Homo sapiens: one gene and its partners. The protein of the gene in region 3 purifies or fractionates together with the protein of the main gene of each other region. This does not show direct contact. Each region holds a gene or a part of one and is shown on either strand. Other genes may lie near its edges. The genes, in order: NOC3L, LARP1, MNDA, SPOUT1, ATXN2, HP1BP3 and TENT4B.

Region 1 (3,107 bases), on a different chromosome or scaffold from region 3:
GGAAAAAACCTACAGCAAAATATTAATTCTGGGTAATGAGTACATTGTAAGGTGCTATAGTTTCAATGTGTCCCCTCCAAAATTCAGATACGGAAACTTAACAGTCAATGTGATGGTATTAAGAGGCAAAAGCTTTAAAAGGTGATTAAGCCATGAATGGGATTAACCCATTTATGCCTACTAGTGTTCCATTATCAGAACACTAAGCTTGTAGGAGTTATTTATATCCTACTGCTCAAGGTCATCGCCAAGGTCTGATTTTTCACACACAAAAAAAATTTGCAACCTCTGGCATAAATGGGTTAAAGTCTTTATAGAAGAGGCTTCATGAAGTGAAGCTGTGGCACTGCTCCCATTCTGTCCTGTCTGCCATGTGAGGGCATGGGGTTCCTCCCCTCCAGAAGATGCAGCAACAAGATGCCATCTCAGAAGCAGAGAGGCGCCCTCATCAGTCAACCAAACCTACCAGCACCTTGATCTTCAACTTCCCAGCCTCCAGAATTCTGAGAAAATAAATTTCTGTTTTTTTTTTTTCAGACGGATTCGCTCTTGTCACCCAGGCTGGAGTGCAATGGCGAGATCTCGACTCACTGCAATCTCCGCCTCCCGGGTTCAAGCAATTCTCCTGCCTCAGCTTCCCAAGTAGCTGGGACTACAGGAACCCACCACCACGCCTGGCTAATTTTTGTATTTTTAGTAGAGATGGGGTTTCACCATGTTGGCCAGGCTAGTCCTGAACTCCTGACCTCAGGTGATCCACCCGCATCGGCCTCCCAAAGTGCTGGGATTACAGGCGTGAGCCACTGAGCCTGGCCCTCTGTTGTTTATAAGTTACCCAGTCTTAGGCATTTTTTATGGCACCATAAATGGACTGAGGGATTTTTTATACCATTTTCTCTCTTTCTCTGTATAACTTAAGTATTTCCTGTCTGTATTTAAAAAAAGGTAATTACTGGCTGGGCACAGTGGCTCACGCCTGTAATCCCAACACTTTAGGAGGCCAAGGTAGGTGGATTACCTGAGGTCAGGAGTTCGAGACCAGCCTGGCCAGCATGGTGAAACCCCATCTCTACAAAAATTACAAAAATTAGCTGGGCATGGTGGCGGGTGCCTGTAATCCCAGCTACTCGGGAAGCTGAGGCAGGAGAATCGCTTGAACCCGGGAGGCGGAGGTTGCAGTGAGCCGAAATTGCGCCATTGCACTCCAGCCTGGACAACAGAGTGAGACTCCATCTCAAAAAAAAAAAAAAAAAGTAATTACTATTTTTCACCTTTCTGTACTTGTGAAAATTTTGTAAGTAAACAGTTCAGGGAAAAGAAGACTCTTTTAGGAGGACCTTTTCCCCATCTGGGTGTGAGGTAGATGCTGGAAGTACCCATCCAAGCTGCTTATAGGTCAGAAGGTACTCTGCAAGGGCCAAAAAAAGAAAAAGCTGCCCTTCTGGATGGCAGTGTTCCAAAGCACCTCTTTTCTTCCCTCTCCTCATTTTTTTTTTCTCCTCATCCTGCCCTAACAGGGCCATTCAAAAAAAAAAAAAAGACCGAGCGAGCGAGAAAGCAAGGAAGCTTAATTTGGTTGACTTGTGTTTTATCTTCACATGAAGCACCTATAGCCATAGATTATTCATTGTTGAACCTGAGTGATGGGGGGCATATGGACATTCACTATGCCATTCTACTATCCTGTATGTGCGAAACTTTTCACGATTAAAAAAATGTTTTTCAAGTTGAATGACAGAAGAAGAAAAAAAATGTTTTAAGTGATCAACAAAATCATAGCATGTTTTCTTTCAGAACAATTCAGGAATATGAAGCAAGACCAATCCAGATACCCAACTGGCACTTTACATTTTGTAGTATGTTACTTTATGAAACAGTCTTCTCATAGTAAGTGGCTATCAGCTCAATTCTGTAGTTTTAGAATAAGGCAATGCTAAATATTACCTTCGACTCAACTCTGGTTTGAGTGCTCCAGAGCCTTCAGAAGGTGCTCCAGCGATCAGGTGGGCTGCAAATCTCTGCACTATGGGATGATAATGCCTCTGAAGGGAAAACGGGACAATCACATTCTGCACAGGTCAGTCCTTTACAAAAAACACTAGCCACAGCAAAGATTTTCTTAAATAAAATTACACCAAATTTTTTTTCATCACCTATGTACAGTATATGTAATTCATTAGAAGCACATACCCACAGAAAGAATATTATCTTTGCTAATAGGATTAAAACACAAATCAAGTTACCAGTGAAGTAGTTTAGTCTTGCTTTTACAATATAAATAGAAAAATCAAAAAGCAATTCCTCTTTCAGAGTGAAAAAAGTTAATTTACAACAGGTTACCTGCCACTTCTATTTTCTACAAGTCTCACTCTAATGCTGTCCATACTGTAGGATCACTGCATAGGTGAAACCATCTTGAAACAGGGCTTACTAAAGTCTCCTTGGATAAGACTCAACAGAAATGTACCTGATAACAAATCCTCTGAAGAGTGTTAGGGAAAGATTTCAATAAAGGGAAAGGTTTCAGTAAATCTTCCACAACTGCACCCTACAGAACTGACACTGTTTTCTGCTTCCTTAGAAAATGTACCTCAACAGCTTAAAGAATAGTAACAGCAAAGTAAAATGTAGCATACTAACACAGGAATTCTAAAAAAGGCAGCCCCAGAACAAAATATAATTAAGTACTCTGGCAATAACAACTATTTGAAGAAAAACTGGAAAACAATTATTCACAAACATCCCCAAAAAGAAAAAAACCAGGGCCACTCTTACCCGCAGAGCATGCAGTTCCCACAGAGCAGTGTTCTGAGCATTGCAGTACTCAGGCTCATCCAGTTCAGGAAGGAAAACTCCACTTCCCTGAGATTCACTGTCAAGCAGTAGATCTGTTTTGGGGAAAGTCTGCAAAAATGTCACATAAAAAGAATTGGTTAAATTAACATTGTTAATATAAGAGGTGTTACTGGTTTGTAGTTGTATTTGCATTTAAATTTATGGTTGTATAAGAGCTTTGCATAAAGTCTTTACACCTAGATTTAATAAAAAACAATTTAAGTTTATATAGTAAGAACAAGAGTTGCAAAAAAAAATTTTATCTTTGCTTG
Region 2 (3,500 bases), on a different chromosome or scaffold from region 3:
AGCCTCAGAACACAGAGCAGGTGAAGGATTTAGCACTTCCTTAGCTCAGACAAGGCAAGGGAGAGAAGCAAAGCACTGGAATGCAATGAAGTAGACCCAAGACTCTGAGCAGCCCGACAGGAATGCCTCACCTTGGCATCCAGTGTCCGTCCTTCTTTCACCACTGGGTAAAACCGTGATGTCTGGCTTGAGTCTTTGAGCTGTGGTGTCCGGGGAGTGCGAGGGGTCCTGGTGTTGCGGTAGTTTGGTGACTCTGGGACAGTGGTTGGTAGAGAGCGGGCGATGGTGGAGGGCTCAGGAGCACCAAACAACTTGTTGGCCAGGGCATCCGTAGGAACTGCAGAGGCAGAGAGAGGAGTCAGGAAGCAGGGAAAGGCCTGTGGCATCCACCCCAGGATAGCCCCCAGTCCAAGGGCCCTAGATCCTCTCACCCATGTCAGGATCTCAGGTGTCTGCTTCTCACCTTGCTGGAACCGAGGTGGCCCAGGAGGAACTTCCTGGTTGGGATCCACAGGGGGCTCAGGGGTCAGTGTGTCAAACTGCTCCCGGCTGATCATATTGACCTTTTTGAAGTTCTCGACTTCTTGCTGCAGAGGTCATGAGATGAGTGGGGAAAGATGTAAGTAAGCAGGCTGCTCTAGCCTGTTTAAGGAATCAAGACTGGCAGGAAGTTGGAGAGGGCAGCTCCCACGTCGACATACGTGGAATTCTGGTCCCCAGGCTCTCAGCTGCCCAGTCACCATTCCTCACCCCAGTTACCTTGGCACAAGTGTGCTAGCCCAGAAGAAGACAGTGCTTGCCCTGCCCTCCCTGTAGTAAGACTGAGATCAGGCTGACAGTAGCTCCTCAGGAACTCACTACACACTCCCCCCTGAAAGCTCCAGTGTTTCCCCATCTCTCTTTCTGCTACTGCCTTATCACACAGTGGCTGGGCAACTCTCCTTCCTCCTTACTTCCAGGAAACACACTGCTACTTATTACAAAGGCTCACCCTAGGACAACCTACCACCAAACATACCCACTCTAAAATCCCACAACAGAGATGTTTTGACTATTTCCAGGCAGCAGCAATTTTTCAAAAGACTTATCTTTTCTCCATTTTCCATACTCAACACAAGCTTCTTAAAAGGCTTCTAAATTTTTAGATGCCTAAATATTTAAGACTAGAAATAACAATCTAACCCTTTTTCTGTTCCCCACAAAAGTGTCTAGCCAACTGTCAGAATATTAACTATGGATCCGCAGATAGGATAATAATCACCACCGCCTCACCTGAAGAGTTTGCAGTGTTTACACATCACCCCTCACTCCTAATGCCCAAGCTAGATGTCAGTCATCATCCCCTTCCCATATATAAAAATCCTGAGACTCTGAATTATAAGGACCTGCCTAAAATTGCACAGCTAATCAGGCTTCCTCTTCTCCGTACAATACAGGCACACCAGGCTCCACACTCACTGCTATGTCCAAGCCTCACCTTGATCTGGGAATACTCAGGTTCAAACTTTTCAGCCCACAGGTCCTGCTCATAGTAGAAGAGGCCATCATTAATGACCTTGGCCAGTTCGGCGCTCATCTTGGCACGCGAGGTGTGGTTGCCTGTGCGGTCCCCCCCTGGGTGCCGGCGCATGTAATGTGGTGTCTGGGTGACAATGAGGATCTTGTTGACATCCCTGTCATCAATCTCATAGTCAGATTCCTCATCAGACCAGGCAGTGAAGGTGTTCTTCCGCCCATCCATCTGCTCCATCTCCTCGTCAAACAGAAAATCCAGTTCCTCTTGCTCATCCTGATCCTTGGACATCAGCTGCTGGGAAGGCAGCTGCTGAGGCAGAGAGGTCAGGTGGGAAAATCTGGACTCCTCTGACTTCTAAAATAGGACAGACGAAGGGGAAAAGGAATCACCAGAGATCCTTGGCCCAGATTCTGTAGCTATACCATGAGAGGGAAGCTCCAGCCTCTCAACATAAGACTGTTCAACTATGACCCTGGTAACACCAGCAGGTCACAAGCGTCATCCTGGGAGTCAGCTTTATGACTATGAGAAAGGATGTTTCATAGAAGTCCAGGTTCCTCCACTCACAGCTCATATCACAGTCATGCACAAACAACTGATGATGACTTCTCTATAGGCAGGAACTGTGCTCTCATTTACCTTTATATCCTACATAGCACCTAGCTTAGGAGTGGACACACAGAAGTTCAGCAGGTTGATTCATCCACTTATCCATCTATTCAACATCTCCCAATAAACTGGAAGCTCCATGATCCACAGCTGCCTTGCTTTCCATTATATACTCAGTACCTAGACGGGGATCTGGTAATACCAGATGTTCAATTATATAATAAATGAGGGAGTACCCATTAGTCCTAAGCTCTGTATGAAAAACCTAAAAGCAGAATAAGACAAGGTCCCTGTTACTTAGGGAGCTCAATGGGAGAAAGTCAACCAAACAGCCAACTGCATTGTGGTATGGTAAAGGCTATAAGCAGGTTTGTGGATGCACACAGTTAAAGGAGCTTAGTCAACTGTGACTAAGAATGGTTACGGAAGGCCTCCTTCAAGAAGTGACTACCACAGGATGAACATAAGTAAGCCAGATGAAGATAGGGACAGACTAGGCAGAAAGAATACCATTGTTCCAAAGGCAAGAGAAAACACGGTGCCTTCAGCAAAGAAAAACTATTTGTTTTGATAGACTGAATATGAGACGCTGAGAGAGAAGCATTTGTCTAAACCCACAGTATTTATTCAAAAGTAGATTCCCTGCTGTGCCAAGAGCACATAAACTCTAAACCTATCTTTTTTTAAGGTTTAAGATAGACCAGGTCAGAGTAGGGGCTCTAATTCTGGAATGGGAGCTAAGTCTGACCCCTGTTTCAAACAAAACTTTGTAGGCCTGGACTTTGTAAAACCCTCATCTACTTACTACCTTTCTCCTCATGTCTCTGGCTGGATCTCCAACACTTTTTGAGGGCTGAAGCCACAACTGTGGGGAATTCTGTGTATGAACAGGCAGGCAAGAGAAAGGAGATGAGAGGTAATCACTGTGGGAAAATAGATAAGGGAGTATAGAATTCCATAGACCCAAAGTTCAAGGTCAATTCTGCAGTCTCCTCACAAGCCCCAGGCCAGAGGTCTCCAAAGTGGGTGACAGTGAGCAGGTATGTGGAGAAAAATTCAGCACTTAAAAAGGAAGTAGTAATTTTAGTTAGAGATTGCAATACTTCTTTAACAGTGAACTTCATCTGTTTATATATATAAACTATTTCTAGAATATTCTAATGTCTCCTTCCTTTCATCTGCAGATGGAGAAACTGAAGCCTTGAGGTATGAACAGGCTTCCCAAGGTCACCTTGCCATTAGTGCAGCAGACTTGTGTAGACTAACTCCATATTTGGGCCATGCATCTGCTCCCTCTCCCTTCCTTCTTCTGAGGACCTAAGGGGCTTACATACATGATAGTGGGGACATACTCAGGGAAAAGACACCAAAAACG
Region 3 (3,500 bases):
ATAAAAATGTTTCACTACAGAAAAAAATCAACAAAAAGAAGTCACTAAGAGACAAAAACCTATTAAGACATACAGAAAACAAATAAAAAATGGCAACAATAAGTTCTAAGTTCTTCCTTATCAATAATTAGTTCAAATGTAAATGGTTTAAACTTACTAATCAAAAAGCATATTAAAATTATATATACATATATATCACAATGAATTTAAAAACAGGGGATCCAAGTATATGTTGCATACAAGAGGCTCATTTTACAGATGTAAGGACAAAGATAGAAAGTGAAGGAATAAAAGAGATATTCCATTGAAATATTAAATAAGAGAGCAGAGTTTGCTATACTAGGATCAGATAAAATAAAAATAACAGTCAAAAAGTGTTATAAGAGACAAAGAATATTACATAGTGTTAAAAAGGCCAGTTCACCTAGAAGATATGACAATTAGAAACATACATGCACAAAACATCAGGGCTCCTAATATATGAAACATTTACAGAATTGAAGGGAGAAATAGACAACTCTAAGGTAATAGTAAGAGACTTTAATGTTCCACTTTCAATAATAGGTAGAACAATCTGACAGAAGAAAATTTGGAAAAAATAAATATTGAAAAACATTATAGACCACTTATAGACCAATTATATCTAACAGATATATCCAAAACAGTAAAGCCAACAACAGTAGAATACACATTTTTCACACGAACATATGGAACATTGTCCCAACATATACCACAAATTAGGATGCCAAACAAGTGTTAATAAATGTTAAACGTTTGAAATCATACAGAGTATATTTTTTTATCATAATGGAATAAAAGTAGAAATCAACAGAAAGAAAACTAGAAAATTCATGACCCTGTGAAAATAAACAACACAAACAATGAAACATGTACAAAGAATCACAAGTCAAATTTAAATCCATATTTAGAGAAATTATATAGAAACACAACATATCATTTCATTAAATGCAAAGAATATGGTGATGAGGGTAATTTACAGATTTAAACAACTACATTTACAAAGAAGACTCTCAAATCAATAATCTGACTTTACACCATAAGGAACTTAAAAAAGTAGAACAAACTAAACCAAAAGCCATCAAAAGGAAGGAAAAAATAAAAATTAGAGGTAAAATTGAGATTAGAAAAATAATAAAGAAAATCAATAAAAAAAAGAGTTGGTTTTCTGAAAATGTGAATAATACTGACAGAACTTTAACTGAATTGACATAGAAGAAAAAGAAGGAGACTCAAATAATAAAATCAGAAACTAAAAAGAGAACATTACAACAGATTTCACAGAAATAAAGAGAATACTTTGAACAATTATACATCAATAAGTGGGATAACCTAAATGAAATGGATAAATGGATAAATTATTAGAAACATACAACCTGCAAATTTTGAATCATAAAGAAATAGAAAATCCGAACAGTCATTATGACTAGTCAGGAGACTGAATCAGAAGTCAAAAACCTCTCAATAAAGAAAAGTCCAGACTAAGTGGTTTTACTGGTAAATTCTACCAAATATATAAAGAAGAATTAAGACCAAAATTCCTCAAAGTCTTTCAAAATTTGAAAAGGAGGGAACACTTCCAAACTCATTGTATGACTCAGCATTACTCCAATGCAAAGCCAGACAGAGGCACTAGAAAAATAAAATTTTCTAAACAATATCCCTTATGCATGTCGATGCATTTTTTTTTTACAAAATGCTAGCGAACATAATTATATAGCACGTTAAATTTATTTATGCATCATGACCATTTAAGGTTTATCCCTGGAATGCAATGATGGCTCACCATGCAACAATCAATTAACACTCTTAATGGTAAAAGACTGAAAATATTTCTCTTATTCCTGAAAGATGAGGAAAAATACACAGATGCTCATTTTTCACTTGTAAAAATCAATTAAGATAATACACCACATTACCAGAATGAAAGACAAAAAAAAAATGATCATCTCAATTGATGCAAAAAATAAATAAAGCATTTGACAAAATTAAATAGCCTTTCATGTTAGAAACACTCAGTAAACGAAGAATAGGAGAAAATTACTTCAACATAGTAAAGTCTACATACGAAAACACCATAGCTAACATTATTCCCAATGGTAAGAGACTGAAAACATTTCTCTTGCTCCTGAAACATCAGGAAAAAGACAAGGATGATTTTTTTGTTCACTTCTGTTTGAGATAGTACTGAGGGTTTAACACCCACCCCCCGCCCCCACCAAAAATAGGCAATAAACAGAAAATATAAAATATCCAAATAAGAAAGAAAAAAGGTAAATTCTCTCTCTTTACTGGTGATATGATCTTATATGTGGAAAGTCCCAAAGATTCTATGTAAATACTTAGAATTGATAAACAAATCCAGCAAAGTTACAGGAATCAAAGGCAACACATACAAATCAGTTGTGTTTTTATACGCTAACAACGAACAAAAAGGAAATTAAGGAAACAGTTCTTTTTCTGTATACAATAGCTTAAAGTAGTAAAATACTTAGGAATAAACTTAATCAAGGTGGTAAATTATACAACACTTTGAAGGAATTAAAGAAGGCACAAATGTACATGGGAAGGCATCTGTGTCCAGGGGTTAGAAGACTTGATACTGTTAAGGTGTCAATACCCAAGGAACTGCATATGCAATGCAATTTGCAATGTAATCTGTAATGCAAAATCCCAGAAGTGTTTTTTACACGAACACAAAAATTTGTCTTAAAATTCATGTAGAATTTAAAGGTACTTTAAATAGCCTTTTTTAATCTTGAAAACAAGAACATGGAGGTTTCAGACTTCCTGCTTTCAAAACTTGTTATAAAGACACAATAATCAAAACAGTGTGGTATTGGCATAAAGACAGACATAAAGAACAATGGAATATGATAGATAGCATAGAAATAAACCCTGAGAAATATGGCTTATTGATTTTTGACATGGACGTCAAGGCTGTTTAATGAGAAAGAACAGTCTTTTCAAAAATGCTGTTGGGCAATTGTGACATCTGTATACAAAAAGTTGAACCCTTACCTACATCATATACAAAATGTAACTCAAAGTATATCAAATATCTAAATGTAGGAATTAAAACTATGAAACTCTCAGAATAAAACAAAAGGGAAAGGCTCCATGACATTGGATTTGGCAATGGGTTTCTTGGACATGACACCGATGGCACAGGCAACAACAACAACAATAAAATAGATAAATTAGACTACAACAACATTTAATTTTTATATACATCAAAGACACAATTAACAGAGTAAAAAAGGGAACCTAGAGAATGAGAGAAAATATTCACACTTTATATATTTGATGAGTGCTTTATATCCAGAATATACAGCCAACTCCTACAAATCAACTCCAACAACAACAGAATCCAAACAGTGTGATAAAAATTGATAAACACGGTGAAACCCCTTCTCTACTAAAAATACAAAAATTAGCCGGGCATGGTGGCGCGTGTCTGTAGTCCCAGCTACATGGGAGGC
Region 4 (3,500 bases), on a different chromosome or scaffold from region 3:
CCTATGCCTGACCCCAAAAGTGGGTACACAGGTTCCATGAGGCCAGGACGAAGGCTCCAGCTGCACGTGGCTTCCCCCGTGGGACAGATGCAAGTGAGACCCCAAGGGGAGAGCTGCTGTGCCCACCGTGGTCACACACAAGGAAGTGGCAGAACCAGGGCCCTGGGAGATCACTGAGCGCACGGCTAAGGAACCAGAGGCCCGGAGCAGGGGTGGGCAGGGCCCCCTGGGTCACCCAGTCTGGGAGCACAGGACGGGCACTAGCACCCATGGTTGACTCCCAGCTACACTCATGTCTCGTCGCTGTGGCAAGAGGCCAAGGGGGATGAGAGGACCACCTCCAGACAAGGCAGCCACGGGCAAGGGTGGGTGACAGGGCAAGAGTAGCACCCGCCCCTCGGACAGATCCCAAGGCCCCAGTGGCTGGCAGTCGGGGAGGCAGGCGGGCTCACCTCCGTGCGGATGGTACGGCTACCCTGGCCAGGACAGGTATTGACGTACAGGTCAAAGAGGACACTGGGTTCAGCCACCTCCAGGTTGGGGTCAGCATCCGCTCCAGCTTCCAGACCCTGGAGGCCCCCGAACACCACAAGAGCATGCCTGGCCCATGTAAGAGGGGGTCACCTGAGCGGCCACCGAGGCCCCACCCAGCACAGCGCCCAGACCTCAGTCCCTCCCCACCCCAGACAGCAGGGGCCCATCTGTGCAGCTTCACCCACCAGGCAGGTTCCTGGCCACATTCCTCCTGCCCTGGCCGCAGCCCCAGGAGGTACACACCTGAAGTTGGGAAGCTGGGCAGAGGCCACATCTGAGCCGCGCTCTGACGTCCCGATGGTCAGGTCATACCCATCTTGGAAGGGGGCCTCAGCAAACACAGCACCTGGGGGTGGGGCCAGCTCAGTGCAGGTCCTGCTCCCCACAAGCCATAGCTCCGGGTATTATGTGTGTGTGTACTGAGGCGGGGGTGGGTGGGAAGAGCTGTGTGGTGTGTGTGTGTGTGTGTGTGCGTGTGTGTACTAAGGTAGGGGTGGGTGGGTAGAGCTCTGCCTGTGTGTGCATTGAGGCAGGGGTGTGTGTGTACCGAGCAGGGGTGGGTAGAGCTGTTCCTGGAAAGTCAAGGACTGAGCAGGGCAGACACCAAGCCTGTGCTTGGCTGGGGAACAGGGCAGAGACTGGATAGGAAGAGGCACCAAGAACATGAAGTGGGCCTCTGACTTCTCTGGCCCTTTTGCCTCCATTCCCAACCCTACAGAAACATTATTGATCAATAATGATACTTTTGCTCAGTAGTCCTTAACAGCATTCCAGGCAGTGCATCCAGGGAGAACAAGGCCCAGAGAAGGGGAAGGACTTGCCCAAGGACACACAGCAAGTTGACAGGACAAAAACCCTGGTCTGATATTTGGGTCAGGCAAGGCTCCCGGCCACCTCCCAGAGGGATGGATGGATATTCAGAGAAGTAAGGTCTGTCCTTACTGAGGCAGGAAGCCAGTCGGACGGTGTAGCCCCAGTAGAGACCAGCTTTGGTGCGAGGGTCCTGCGATGATACCACTTTGCCATGGTAGGTCTTGCAGTCTGGAGGGGTAACAGAGTCTGTAAAGATGGGGTGAGGGAATGGAAGCAGGTGGCTGAACCCTGGAGCTCATCAGGCCAACCCAGGGGTTGGGGAACCTTCCAGATACCTGGGTGCTGCTGCTGGTTCAGTCGCACAGTCACCCGAAGCCCGGGCTCCAGGTTCTTGTCAATCTTCACCTCCTGGGGAGAAGCCAGAAGAAATGGGTGCCATTCCTCTCAAGATCAGCAGGGGCCACGGCTCTTCCAGATGCCACCAGGGGAGCCCCGGGGCTGGCAAGGGACCAAGGGGTCCAGGTCAACCTGCCACCCTCCACCCCTGGCACCGGCTGAACCTGCTCACAAGAGATCATTTGTGCAAAACACAGGTCACTGGCCAAACATGCACCTTTGGGGCGCTCATGGCACAGGATAGAAGTAGATGAAACTCAGTTTTCTACATTTTGGTAGCTCTGCAACTTTTTTTTCTTTTTTTTCTTTTTTAAGATGGAGTCTGGCTCTCTCACCCAGGCTGGAGTGCAGTGGCACGATCTCAGCTCACTGCAACCTCTGTCTCCTGGGTTCAAGTGAATCTCCTGCCTTAGCCTCCCGAGTAGCTGGGATTATAGATGCGTGCCACCACACCTGGATCATTTTTGTACTTTTATTAGAGACAGGGTTTCACCATATTGGCCAGGTTGGTCTCAAACTCCTGACCTCAAATGACCCGCCTGCCTCAGCCTCCCAAAGTGCTGGGGTTACAGGCGTGAGCCACTGCGCTTGGGTTGTGCTTTCTGACAGGAAGGGACTCCATACATGTAAAGGTTTCTGCCTCTGATTTGAGGAGGCTTGAGGATAAAGAGGCGGCAAATTAATGCCCTCATCCCAGCTTGGCTCTGTGCCACATGGGAGCAGCTCCAGAGTGACTTTCAACTTGTTTCTGCAGGGTTTTGTTTGGAGCATGAGGACTGTCTTCTGTTGATTTGCTTTTTAAGCAACAGTAAATTCATTCCTGGCTTTATCTATTGAGCCCCATTTTGCACAATTCTCTGGCCCAAATTTGCATCAGTGAGGGATTTCGGGCAGGTCCAGGGCTCTCCGCAACATCCATCTGCTTGCCCTCCATTGCCAGGGTGTGTCCTGGAGGTGTGTCCTAGCCCATCTTTCTGTTCCTACCTTTTTCATGCCACAGTTGACAAAGGAGCCGTGGCCTGGCCGGGTGGGCCGATCCACCACGATGCCCTCTCGGAACTCGGATTCCTCATCCTGACGCATGTGGTGGGGGCTGTCCAGGGGGTTCAGGAGCCCTGTGGAGGCAGAGCCGGGAAGAGTCTGGGAAGTGCTAGGGCACACAGGGTGCAGTGGGGACCCTGGAGCGGAGTACCGGCTCTGCCACAGACCTGCGTCTTGGCATCAGACACAGGTCTTGCTCTCCCAGGCCTGCTTTCCCACCTGGACAGCGCAGGGTAGGACTGGGTGGTCTCAGTGTCTGTGGCATGATCCAGGGGAAATGGGGGGGCGGGCCCATACAGCGTTACCTGCAAACTGTAGATCCTGGTGCTTGGGGAAGAACGCCTTCCTCAGGTACCTAGGAAAGAATGCTGACCTCAGGATGTTCCCAGGGGAAGCCGCCTCCTACCTGGTCTCCACTTTGACACACCCCTCCCTCATGCTTAGGGGAGTGACCCCCTTACTGTGGACACTCCAGGTACTGCAGGATCCGGGCCAGCTGTACGCACGCCTGCCCCTTCTTCCCAACTCCTGTGAATTCCCCCTCCACAGTCCTGGAGAGAGAGAGATGGGGGCTCAGGATCCAGCTGTGGCCCCTTCAAGAGCTCCTGTCTACAAGTGCACGCGTATAATCCCAGCTACTCAGGAGGCTAAGGTGGGAGGATCATCTGAGTGCAGCAAGTAGAGGCTGCAGTGAGCCATGACCATGCCACTGCATG
Region 5 (3,500 bases), on a different chromosome or scaffold from region 3:
GGCTGAAGAAAGTTCATTTGTTTAACTACTGTATACAGTGCAAATAAGGAGGGGGAAGGCTGTGGGGCAGACCCTTCTGGGGCTGTAAAGAAGCATAATTATCAGGCAGAGATAAACCCCCTTTTTAACAACAATTCAAGAGAGTTTATAGCTTCACACATTTATCAAATTTCTCTCTAATGAACAAAAGGTTAATAGAAATAGTTTTAATAAACTAAAGTTAAAACACAGAAATTATAGGTTATTAAATAATGAAGAGGAAACTATTTTGTAATTATAAACTCACATAGGAGTTAAACAAAGACAAACAAAAACATGAACAAATTGTGGTATTGTACCTTCTGAAGACATGCGTTTAGGCATAGTAGAGACAGGAGCTGGAGAACCATGAGCAGAGGGGTGAGACGGGGGTCTGGATGGCCGCGAGGGGGGCCTGGAGGGCGGCCGTGTAGGGGTGGCTGCCCGAGGTGGAAGAGAGTTGGGACCTGACTGGTAGCGAGAAGGTGGGCGAGAGGAAGGAGATGGGCAAGGCGATGGCCAGGGAACACCTGACAGAACAAATGATATGAAGGAAAGTATAAAAACTAAAGAAAAAAATGAGGGAAAAAAGTAAACAGAAAAAAAGTAAAATGACAAAAATGATTTCTTGTACATTTTAACCCTTTGAGGACAGTCATTTGATTTGTGATAAGTTTTAGCATAACTTAACTGACATAAATTCACATTTTACTTTAACCTCCTTAAGATTAAGTCTGTTTAAATGAATACACGTTCCCAAAGGGTTAATTAGGATCTATACACACTATTGAAGAAGACAGTTAAGACTTTGCCTATTAATCCTGCTTCTATAACTGTTTCTCAGTAACTGGTTGTTTAAAGGAATATAACATACACTAGATAATTTCACATAATAAATCACAATAATTCCTACTCAGGAGTAAGATTATTTACTGTATTAGTTTTAACTCTGAGGCATAACGAAAATAAGCAGTAGCTATTATATCCAATTAGAAATGCTGGTTCCTTACAATTATCTATGATTTTCATCAGGTTTACACTTGAACCCAGAACTCAGTTTGGAATCTTATTAAGCAAGTCCCATTTAAGTAGAAATAAAACATTACTCTTCTAGAGTTTGTGACTCCTGTGAGTATCAAATGATAATATTCATTGCTATTTCAAAAAAAAAGTCTTGACCTCATTAAACTAGAAAAAGGGAGACCTTCTAAATAATTTATACAGTTAAACACTTATCTAAGCGACTGCTTAATAAATACTGCAACTACAAAGCAGTCATCACCAAATAAATTTATACTGATGGATATGCCTAGGTAAAGATACAGCTAGTATTTAACATTACATATCACTTACCTTAATCTTATCAAACAGTCCAGGTCTCCTCTCCATAGGGTTCCACACACTTAAGTATCATATATTTCTCAGCCCCCTTCAGGTTTTTTAACTTTAAAATTCTGTTTATAAACAACTAAAATCTTTCCTCAGTGAGCAAAGAAATTTCACCCCCAATATTAAGTACTGAAAATACTCAAGAGTGTCCATTTGGAGAGGAATTCTGGAGAAAAGACTCAATGAAAACAAATGAAATTGGAAACTTAGTGTTCTCTATTTTCATCTAACTTTCCAAATTTAAATAGCTAAAATTGAATGTCCACTCTTTTCCCACAAAGTTAGTAACATACTATTGCTATTACTATTTCCATACCATCCATAGAACTGTTGTTCAGTATCCCTGATTTATGGAAAAGATCCACAACCTACAAGATATATTCAACCTAGATTTAGAGGTAGAGTAAAAAATGTCTTCCTACTAAAGATTCAGGTTTCTTTTACTTAAGTTGCTAAACTGTAACATCCACCCTTAGACTAAGGGTTGTTTTTGTTGTTTTTTAAGCAAATTTCTCTAGTCACTTTCTTCACATGACTCTTGATCATGTCTTGTATTATAAGTTACCTCAGATCCTTTCTTGAAGTAAGCATAATATAGAAACAAATAATGAAAATTGATCTATATTAACCACAGTGTTGCACATAGGTTAGAATTTTCCATATAAATTATGTCTAAAAAATTTTATTATCCAGTGTTTTTAAAATTGAGAACCTACCCAAAGTTTCCAATTTCTTTATATGTGAAGTGTTTTTGGCCAAGTGATTGTCTTGGGTTAAATGTAGCACTTTATCTTAGTACATCATGAATATTTCATCATGCTAAATAATATATATGTCAATGACATATACAATGTTTTACTAATTTAATATCCACAAAAGCCAATTTTAAGTAATGCTGAAGTGAAAGCTACTCACCAAATCATTAAAGTGCACATTCATATCAGTTATGTAAACTATTTTAAGTATTTTAAGTATTTAGAAAACTATTTTATCAATGATATTGACAAGTCTGGTCAAAATACTTGCCTCCATTAACTACTCTTTGGTCTGAACCAGAATTCGGGTTGAAATCTGAAGTGTGAGAAGTGGATCTTGATGGCATGGAGCCCGATCCAGGCTGGCCCATACGCGGTGAATTCTGTCTCCCACTTCCCCAGGATATGACTTCTCTATTTCTTTGTCCAGGAGGAATATATTTATTTTCCCTGAAAATGAGAGATCCTCTAAATCATTTTATTCTAAAAGGTACCAAGCCAATGAAACATATCTAAAAGTCATCTAGACAGAAGGGAATGCTTGTTACAAAAAGGTTCTACACTAAACCAAACTGCCTCACTCCCAGATGCCCCTGTTCTTCCATCTTACCCTGAGTTCTAACCTCTGGACTGTCCCTTCCCTTAGATTCTGCTCCTAAGCACAAAGTTTAACAGATGCGTGCTCATTCTCATCCCACTTGACCTCTCTATGGCTGATTCCATCAATCTTGGTCTATCTTCACAACATTTTTTGTCCTTCACTTTCTCAATTTTATTTTCTCTGAGATCTCTTCTCTCACTGGCTGTTCTTTGGTTTTTCATGGCTCCAATATCGGCAATGCTGATGAAACCTCAAACTGAACCGCCAGTCTCACAGTGTCAACATCTATCAGTGGACATGTCAATTCAAATCACCAGACTCTAAGCTGACTGCCTTTAAGAGAGGATGCATCTCTTACTTTACTAGATAGGTAGCAGGTATTTCTCAACACGTTTATGAATAAATGAAAGACCCACAAGCCCACATATGCAATTAGCTGCACAAACGGAGTCACTGTTTTTCCCCTCAAACTTGCTCCATGTTTCCTCTCTCTCTTACCAGTACATCCATTAAGTCACTTAGTTATCAAATAAACCTCAGGCTCATCCCTTAACTAGGTGGTTACCAAATTCTCACAGTTGAACTATTTCAGTGCACTAACTGTTCTCTGTGTCTCAGCCAGTCCTCAATGCCCCAGGGTTTATTCACCCCATCTCCTTCCAACAGGGTGCTCTTTAGCATGACATGCCAAGTCCTTTAATGACCTCAGTTCCTACTATCAACTGCCACTGCTGCAC
Region 6 (3,500 bases), about 140 Mb from region 3:
ATTTTTCTCTTAGCTGCAGGAGAAAGGAGTCACATAAATTAGCACTGGTATAAGGGCTCAGTACATAAGACAAATGAGAATTTTAAAATGCACATTAGTTAACAATTACAACAGATGCAATATGGTATAGTGGAAAAAACTCAAGCTCTTAAAGTCAGAAAACCTTTGTTTGTATTTTCACTCAAACATTTACTAGCTAGCTATATGATCTTAGTAAATGATGTGAGTCTTTCTCCTCAGCTATAAAACAGTAATATAGAACCAACTATTTCCCAAGGTGTTGCAAGAATTATAAGAGTATGTTTATCAAAACAATTTTGTGAGATTTAAAGCATTATGTAAATTTTATTCTGAGTATATAACAGTACTCTGTGCACCTAATAGGTGCATTAGAACATTTAACAACAGACGATAGGCTGGGTGCAGTGGCTCATGCCTGTAATCCCAGCAATTTAGGAGGCTGAGGAGGGAGGACAGCTTGAGGCCAGGAGTTCAAGCCCAACCTAGCCAACATAGTGAGACGCCATCTCCATTAAACACACACACACACACACAAACACACCCACACCCACACACGATAGTTGCTATAAATTCCACAGACCTTAGCTATACTTATGAAACTCAGATAAAGAATACCCTGAAGATTATAGCTAGAAGGTATAGTTATTACTAAGTTATTCTTTTATGGTCATGTGCTGTGTAACAATATTTGGTCAACAGACCACATATACAATGGTGGTCCCTTAAGATTATAATGGAACTGAAAACCTCCTATTACCTGGTTAACATGATAGCTGTGGTAATATCACAGCGCAGCACGTTACTCACTTGTTTGTGGTGACATTGGTGTAAACAAACCTACAGTGCTGCCAGTCATACAAAAATATAGCATATTGGCTGGGCGCGGTGACTCATGCCTGTAATCCCAGCACTTTGGGAGGCCAAGGTGGGCGGATCACAAGGTCAAAAGATTGAGACCATCCTGGCCAACATGGTGAAACCCCCGTCTCTCCTGAAAATACAAAAATTAGCTAGGTGTGGAGGTGCACGCCTGTAGTCCCAGCTACTTGGCAGGTTGAGGCAGGAGAATCGCTTGAACCTGGGAGGTGGAGGTTGCAGTGAGCCCAGATCGCGCCACTGCACTCCACACTCCAACCTGGGTGACAGAGTAAGACTCCATCTCAAAAAAAAAAAAAAAGCACATTACAATTATACATAATACCTGATAATAAACAGCTATGCTACTAGTTTATGTGTTTACTATACTATACTTTTTATCATTAGAGTATATGTTTTCTACCTACAAAAAAAAAGTTAACTGTAAAACAGCCTCAAGCAGGTCCTTCAGAAGGTATTCCAAAAGACAGCACTGTTATCATAGGAAATGACAGGTCCATGTGTGTTGCTGCCCCTGAAGGCCTTGAGTGGGACAAGATCTGGAGGTGGAAGACAGTGATATTGATGACCCTGACCTTGTGCAGGCCTAGGTTAAGGTGTGTGTATGTGTCTTAGTTTTGTTTTTTTATAAATATGAGGTCTCACAACGTTGCCCAATCTAGATTCAAATTTCAGGACTCAAGCAATCCCCCCACCTCAGCTTCCTAAGTAGCTAGGGCTACAGCTGTGCACCATTGCGTCCGGCTTGTGTCTTTGTTTTTGGTAAAGTTTTAAAAGTTTTTAAAAATAAAAACTTTTTAGTTTTAAAAGTTGCTAAAAATAAAAACTTTTTAGTTTTAAAAGTTGCACACAGTAGTCCTAGGCCTTTGCATTCACTTACCACTCACTCACTCACCCAAACAACTTCCAATCCTTTAAGGTCCATTCATGGTAGGTGTCCTACACAGGTATACCATTTTTTATCTTTTATATTATATTTTTACTGTACCTTTTCTATGTTTAAATACACAAATACTTACCGTTGTGTTATAACTGCCTACAGTATTTAGTACAGTAACATGCTGTACAGGTTTGTAGCCTAGAAGCAACAGACTATCCCATAAAGCCTAGGTATGTAGTAGGCTGTACCACGTAGGTTTGTGTAAGTACACTTTATGATGTTGGCACGATGATGAAATCGCCTAAAGATGTATCTCTCAGAATGTATACCCATTGTTAAGCAATGCATGACTATAGTTAAAAGCAATTTCTAACTGTTCTGACCAATTATGAAAAGAGTGGAATGAATACTATCAGCTCTCCTGCAAAAAAAAAAAAAAAAAAATTAAAAATTAAAAAGTAACTGCCATCACTTTATATAGATACACATCAATAGCAAATTTTACTTTCAGATTCTCAAAGCCAATTCTTCAACTGAATATTTCATCAAACATATATAGACTTTTAGGTCACACTACCAATGGCTTGATACAAATCAATGCCTTCTAACATAAGCACACAAAAACAACCCACTCCTGGCACAGAAGTAGGAATAAAATAGTGAAATGTCTTCTAGGTCAGATTTTTATAGTTATGTTTCATTTCTTATTGAAGTCTTGCCAATGCTTAAAATATCAGATACTCCCACAATAAATTACAAGCTCAAAAACACATTCCAAAGCCAATGACAAAGACTTTTGGATTATTCAAACCATTGTGTTCTGCTAACTACAGCATATTCTAACAGGTCAAACAACTATATAATAAACCTATTTCAAATGGTAATTCTAAAAATTAAATCCAAATAGCAAATACCTAGCATAAACCAATGTTATAACACTTTAAAACAATCTAATCTAAAGTCCTTTTACACATTCTTCAAATATAAATAGCAAGAAGACATAACTCCTTACTCCTTTTTGGTTTCCTCAGAAGACTTATTTTCTTCCTTCTCTTCATTCTCAGGTTCCCCCTTTGGCTGCTCTGCCTCACTCGAAGTAGCAGGTGGAGTTTCATTCTCTTGTTCTTCTACAGTGGAGACAGATTCCTCTGAACTTATGTCTGGTTCTAAAAAATCAGGTGAGCAGAATTGCATAAGCAGATGTATTCCAATCTGAGTCAATAAAAGGTAAAAGCTTATCTTATTAAACGGACCAGCCAAAGTCTCCAATTAACAAATGAATTCTAAAATGAAAATGAATGACCACTAATGCAGTTTTCTTACATTCTTTATGTCACTCAAGTTTCCTGGTCAGGTGGTTATTTATCTATTATTAGAAAAATAGACCAGGAAATTACATAGAAAGGAAAACTCATTTCATCCCCAATTGTTTAATTATTCTACTTTGCAATATTCATGAGACTCATAATTAAGAAACTAGCCATTTTATAATTCAACAGGCAAATCTCAGAGAATAAGTAATTTAAAAACTCATGTATTCTCCAAGAGGAATGACTGAAGCAAGAGTAGAAATATGAGGGGAACATGGAGGTCTGCTGCTATTTGTGCCTTTCCTTCACAGCATGTCTCTGAGTAGCTACTATAAAACACAGAACCCCAGGCACTGGTTATGCAGGGACTTCAGAGAACTCCAAAAAAAAATAAAAATAAAAAAAATAAAAAA
Region 7 (3,500 bases), on a different chromosome or scaffold from region 3:
TAACTTCAAAGAACAAGGACACTAAAATTTCCAAACTTATCACTAGTACTTTATTAAGTCCAAGTTCCTGGAAATTAGCCAAAAGTCACCTAATTATAGAATTAAAACACAATCCTATGTATTCTTATTCTTGCTTTGGCAGGAATGTACAATACCTGACAGTGCTAAGAGTTAAGTTACTTTCACAAAATCAAAACAGTGACTACAAAGGGCCAGTAAGGGAAAACTAAGGGACTAAGTCCCAATTCTCAGGTCACAAAGCTGTTTAGATAAAACAATTTATTCTAGGATAGATTTGAAGATCAAGTATCTATTCTATAGAGTCTAAAGGTATTATTCAGGTATAAAAATACTGTAAGAAAACTTTACCACCACCAACAACAAACCACTAACCACAGGTTTACTCCCTAAAATATAGCCAAGCCAACAGACTATAAAATATCCTCATATGAAAAGACAGGACTCTCAATTTTGAAATAAACCCCACAGTTTTACTTTTTTATGTTTTTAGAAAACGAGGCTAAAGATCTACTTCATGCTAGTAACTAGTTTCTAAGAAAAAGCAACATGTAAAGGAAACACTGAAAATTACTTCAAAGACAAAAAAAAGTTAAAATGTTACTGCTAAGAGTAAAACCAAAGAAAAACTGGAAAATTAAAGCCTTTCAAGTCACAATTTTAGAGATTTTTCATTGAGAAAGTTCAATACTGCCAAGATGTTTTAAAATAAAAAAAGTTAAGATTAGATGAGGCTATTTTTATTGATTAATATAAGGCAAAACAGGCTATCACTACACATATTAGAACCGCTCAAATAAAAAAGTGGTAACACTAAATGCTAGCAAGGATGCAGAGAAACTGGATATCTCATATATTGTTGATAGGAATATAAGAGGATATAGTCATTCTAGAAAATAAATAGTTCAGCAGTTTCTCTAAAAACCAAACATGCACTTACCATACAATCCAAACATTTGGGCATTTATTCCCCCAAAATGAAAACTTTATATTCACATAAAAATATTTATATACATGAATGTTTATAGCAGCTTTATTTGCAATAGCCAAAAAACTGGAAACCACCCTTCTGGTATGTCCTTCAATAAGTAAATGGTTAAACAAATTGTGTGGTTCAGCCATACTATGGACTACTACTCAATAGTAAAAAGAAATGAACTACTGATACATGCAGCAATTTGGATGGCTCTCAAAGGAAGTATGGTAAAAGAAAAAAAGCCAAAGTTACATTCTGTATGATTCCATTTATATAACATTCTCAAAATGGCAAAATTACAGAGATGCAAACAGATTAGTGGTTGCTGGAAGGGTGCGTGCGGCTATAAAGTGGTAGCATAGGGAGCCCTGAGGTGATGGAGTAGCTCTGTATATAGAACTATAGACTGTTACAGTGGCTATCCAGATCTACACATGATAAAATTGCATACAATTATATATATACACACACACACAAATACATGTGAAACTGGTGAAATCTAAAAAAGGCTTATGGATTGCAACGATGACAATTTCCTGGTTCTTGACATTAAATTATCGTTATGTGAGCTACTACCATTAGGTGAAACTTGGTGAAGGGAACATGGGCTCTGTACTATTTTTCACAACTTCCTATAAATCTGTAATTATTTCAAAATAGAAAGTAAAAAAATTAGTAGGGCTATGTATGAGGAGGTTAATATAATAACAAATGGAAAAGGTTTAGCATAGCATTTGAAACACGGTAATAAAGGCTTCCATTTTATTGAAACTTTTATTACATTAATTTGAAAACACAGGTTTCCGCACTAAATATATACAACTATTTCAGCAAAAAGCATGACTTGAGCTAGAATTCCTTAATTTAATTACCAAATACTATGTGAAATCTCTTGTGCACATGGTTAAGATTGTTTTAAGACTTAAAATTGTCCAAGTGAATAGGGAACCAGTACACAACATAAATGGCTCAACATTCAGCTTTTTTCCCAAAAATCTTTAACTCAAATGTCTTTTTACATCATCAAGTAACTTATCAGATGGAAATAAATGTATCATCTGCTGTGTGATTCCAAATTAAGGAAAGTCTAACTCAAAGCCATCCTCAACTTGAATATATATAATCTCTTACAAAAAAACAATTACGTGTAATCTTAAGAATAGTGAAACAAACTCAAAGCCTTTTTGGCATTCCACAGCAGCTGAGTCCCTACCAAATATTCTGGGGTGGAAAGAACATTCTACTGGCCATCCTCTGAATTCCTCAGCAGACTCTAGGCTGTCCAGTCAGCTCTGTAGGAAACAGCAAATACCAGGTGCTGGTAACTAGTCTCTAATTCTTCAAAAAAGCATTATCTTTGGCCTACAGCCCCTTCAAGATTACTCTATACCTATGTGTGTGTAAGTGATTAATACAGTCTCTAGTGTTGTGGGTGTGATCCTGAAATAGTTTCCACCACTAAATGTTACTCTTAACAGAGTCAACAAAAGAGAGAATAGAAAGCTGTGTGAAATCATACAAAAGCTTGATTTTCTACTTTCCACAGGAAAAAAAATTACTTTAATTTTCTCAGCTTCAGCAGGTGCAAGAATATCTAACCACTGCCATGACGTCTATACCCTTCCTGTGATATTCAGTATACAGGTTATCTGAGAACAAGTGAGAACCATCTGATCAGTTCCGTATCACCAACGGAGCCCTTAAATTCTGTTCCCATGGACCCTTCTGTACTTCTAACACTATGATTTGTTGGCAGGAATTTCACGGAAGAAATTGAGATGTAAGGCCATCTGGCATGCCAGGATCAGAATTTTTCTAATACACACCCCCGTTCCTGACTTAGAATTTTCTAGTATCCCTTTCCCATCCTATCTTTCCTGTAATGTAGTAAGCCTTTTGTGTGACCACTGGGTAGACAGACTCCAAAAAGTCACTCACCGTTTCCTTTGCTTTTCAATAGTTAAAACTTTATGAGTGTTAAAAAAGAGTCCACAAAGACGAAGGGGGAAAAAAAAAGTCCAAACACTGAAATGCCAATGATTAATGGTGACAGTATTCAATGATCACAGATTTTGGATAAAAGATGGAAGTTGTGGAATGAAAGTTAAGTTAGCGGCCGGGCGCAGTGGCTCATGTCTGTAATCCTAGCACTGTGGGAGGCCAAGGCAGGCAGATCATTTGAGTCAGGAGTCCAAGACCAGCCTGGCCAACACGGCGAAACCCCGTCTCTACTAAAAATACAAAAATTAGCCGGTGTGGTGGCGGGTGCCTGTAATCCCAGCTACTCAGGAGGCTGAGGCAGGAAAATCACTTGAACCCAGGAGTGTTGAAGTTGCAGTAAGCCAAGATCACGCCACTGCACTCCAGCCTGGGTGGCATAGCAAGACTCCGTCTCAAAAAACAAAAACAAAACAAAACAAAAAAAACAAAGAAAGTTAAGTTAGTTGAACACAGTATACTAAATTTTGAGACATTCTTAAATATGAATTATATTGTTAGTGTACAA

What was found.
Region 1: the proteins of MNDA (region 3) and NOC3L purify together in Homo sapiens (affinity purification with mass spectrometry; one large-scale study listed by BioGRID and IntAct). This does not show direct contact.
Region 2: the proteins of MNDA (region 3) and LARP1 purify together in Homo sapiens (affinity purification with mass spectrometry; one large-scale study listed by BioGRID and IntAct). This does not show direct contact.
Region 4: the proteins of MNDA (region 3) and SPOUT1 purify together in Homo sapiens (affinity purification with mass spectrometry; one large-scale study listed by BioGRID and IntAct). This does not show direct contact.
Region 5: the proteins of MNDA (region 3) and ATXN2 purify together in Homo sapiens (affinity purification with mass spectrometry; one large-scale study listed by BioGRID and IntAct). This does not show direct contact.
Region 6: the proteins of MNDA (region 3) and HP1BP3 purify together in Homo sapiens (affinity purification with mass spectrometry; one large-scale study listed by BioGRID and IntAct). This does not show direct contact.
Region 7: the proteins of MNDA (region 3) and TENT4B purify together in Homo sapiens (affinity purification with mass spectrometry; one large-scale study listed by BioGRID and IntAct). This does not show direct contact.

Annotation. Positions count from the first base shown.
Region 1 is NC_000010.11:94,335,833-94,338,939, forward strand, and holds part of NOC3L (nucleolar complex protein 3 homolog), read right to left. Parts: intron 2,905-3,107; coding exon 2,776-2,904; intron 2,043-2,775; coding exon 1,945-2,042; intron 1-1,944. UniProt on the Homo sapiens protein: May be required for adipogenesis.
Region 2 is NC_000005.10:154,800,377-154,803,876, reverse strand, and holds part of LARP1 (la-related protein 1), read right to left. Parts: intron 1,871-3,500; coding exon 1,478-1,870; intron 588-1,477; coding exon 464-587; intron 338-463; coding exon 132-337; intron 1-131. UniProt on the Homo sapiens protein: RNA-binding protein that regulates the translation of specific target mRNA species downstream of the mTORC1 complex, in function of growth signals and nutrient availability.
Region 3 is NC_000001.11:158,834,351-158,837,850, reverse strand, and holds part of MNDA (myeloid cell nuclear differentiation antigen), read right to left. Parts: intron 1-3,500. UniProt on the Homo sapiens protein: May act as a transcriptional activator/repressor in the myeloid lineage. Plays a role in the granulocyte/monocyte cell-specific response to interferon. Stimulates the DNA binding of the transcriptional repressor protein YY1.
Region 4 is NC_000009.12:128,823,295-128,826,794, forward strand, and holds part of SPOUT1 (28S rRNA (uridine-N(3))-methyltransferase), read right to left. Parts: intron 3,336-3,500; coding exon 3,246-3,335; intron 3,140-3,245; coding exon 3,090-3,139; intron 2,859-3,089; coding exon 2,728-2,858; intron 1,756-2,727; coding exon 1,683-1,755; intron 1,576-1,682; coding exon 1,477-1,575; intron 881-1,476; coding exon 778-880; intron 601-777; coding exon 453-600; intron 1-452. Other genes in the region: KYAT1-SPOUT1 (uncharacterized protein LOC127739546), read right to left, coding at 453-600, 778-880, 1,477-1,575, 1,683-1,755, 2,728-2,858, 3,090-3,139, 3,246-3,335. UniProt on the Homo sapiens protein: S-adenosyl-L-methionine-dependent methyltransferase that specifically methylates the N3 position of a uridine in 28S rRNA. Required for association of the centrosomes with the poles of the bipolar mitotic spindle during metaphase.
Region 5 is NC_000012.12:111,515,816-111,519,315, forward strand, and holds part of ATXN2 (ataxin-2), read right to left. Parts: intron 2,613-3,500; coding exon 2,434-2,612; intron 549-2,433; coding exon 339-548; intron 1-338. UniProt on the Homo sapiens protein: Involved in EGFR trafficking, acting as negative regulator of endocytic EGFR internalization at the plasma membrane.
Region 6 is NC_000001.11:20,773,808-20,777,307, forward strand, and holds part of HP1BP3 (heterochromatin protein 1-binding protein 3), read right to left. Parts: intron 2,944-3,500; coding exon 2,790-2,943; intron 1-2,789. UniProt on the Homo sapiens protein: Component of heterochromatin that maintains heterochromatin integrity during G1/S progression and regulates the duration of G1 phase to critically influence cell proliferative capacity.
Region 7 is NC_000016.10:50,159,806-50,163,305, reverse strand, and holds part of TENT4B (terminal nucleotidyltransferase 4B), read right to left. Parts: intron 1-3,500. UniProt on the Homo sapiens protein: Terminal nucleotidyltransferase that catalyzes preferentially the transfer of ATP and GTP on RNA 3' poly(A) tail creating a heterogeneous 3' poly(A) tail leading to mRNAs stabilization by protecting mRNAs from active deadenylation.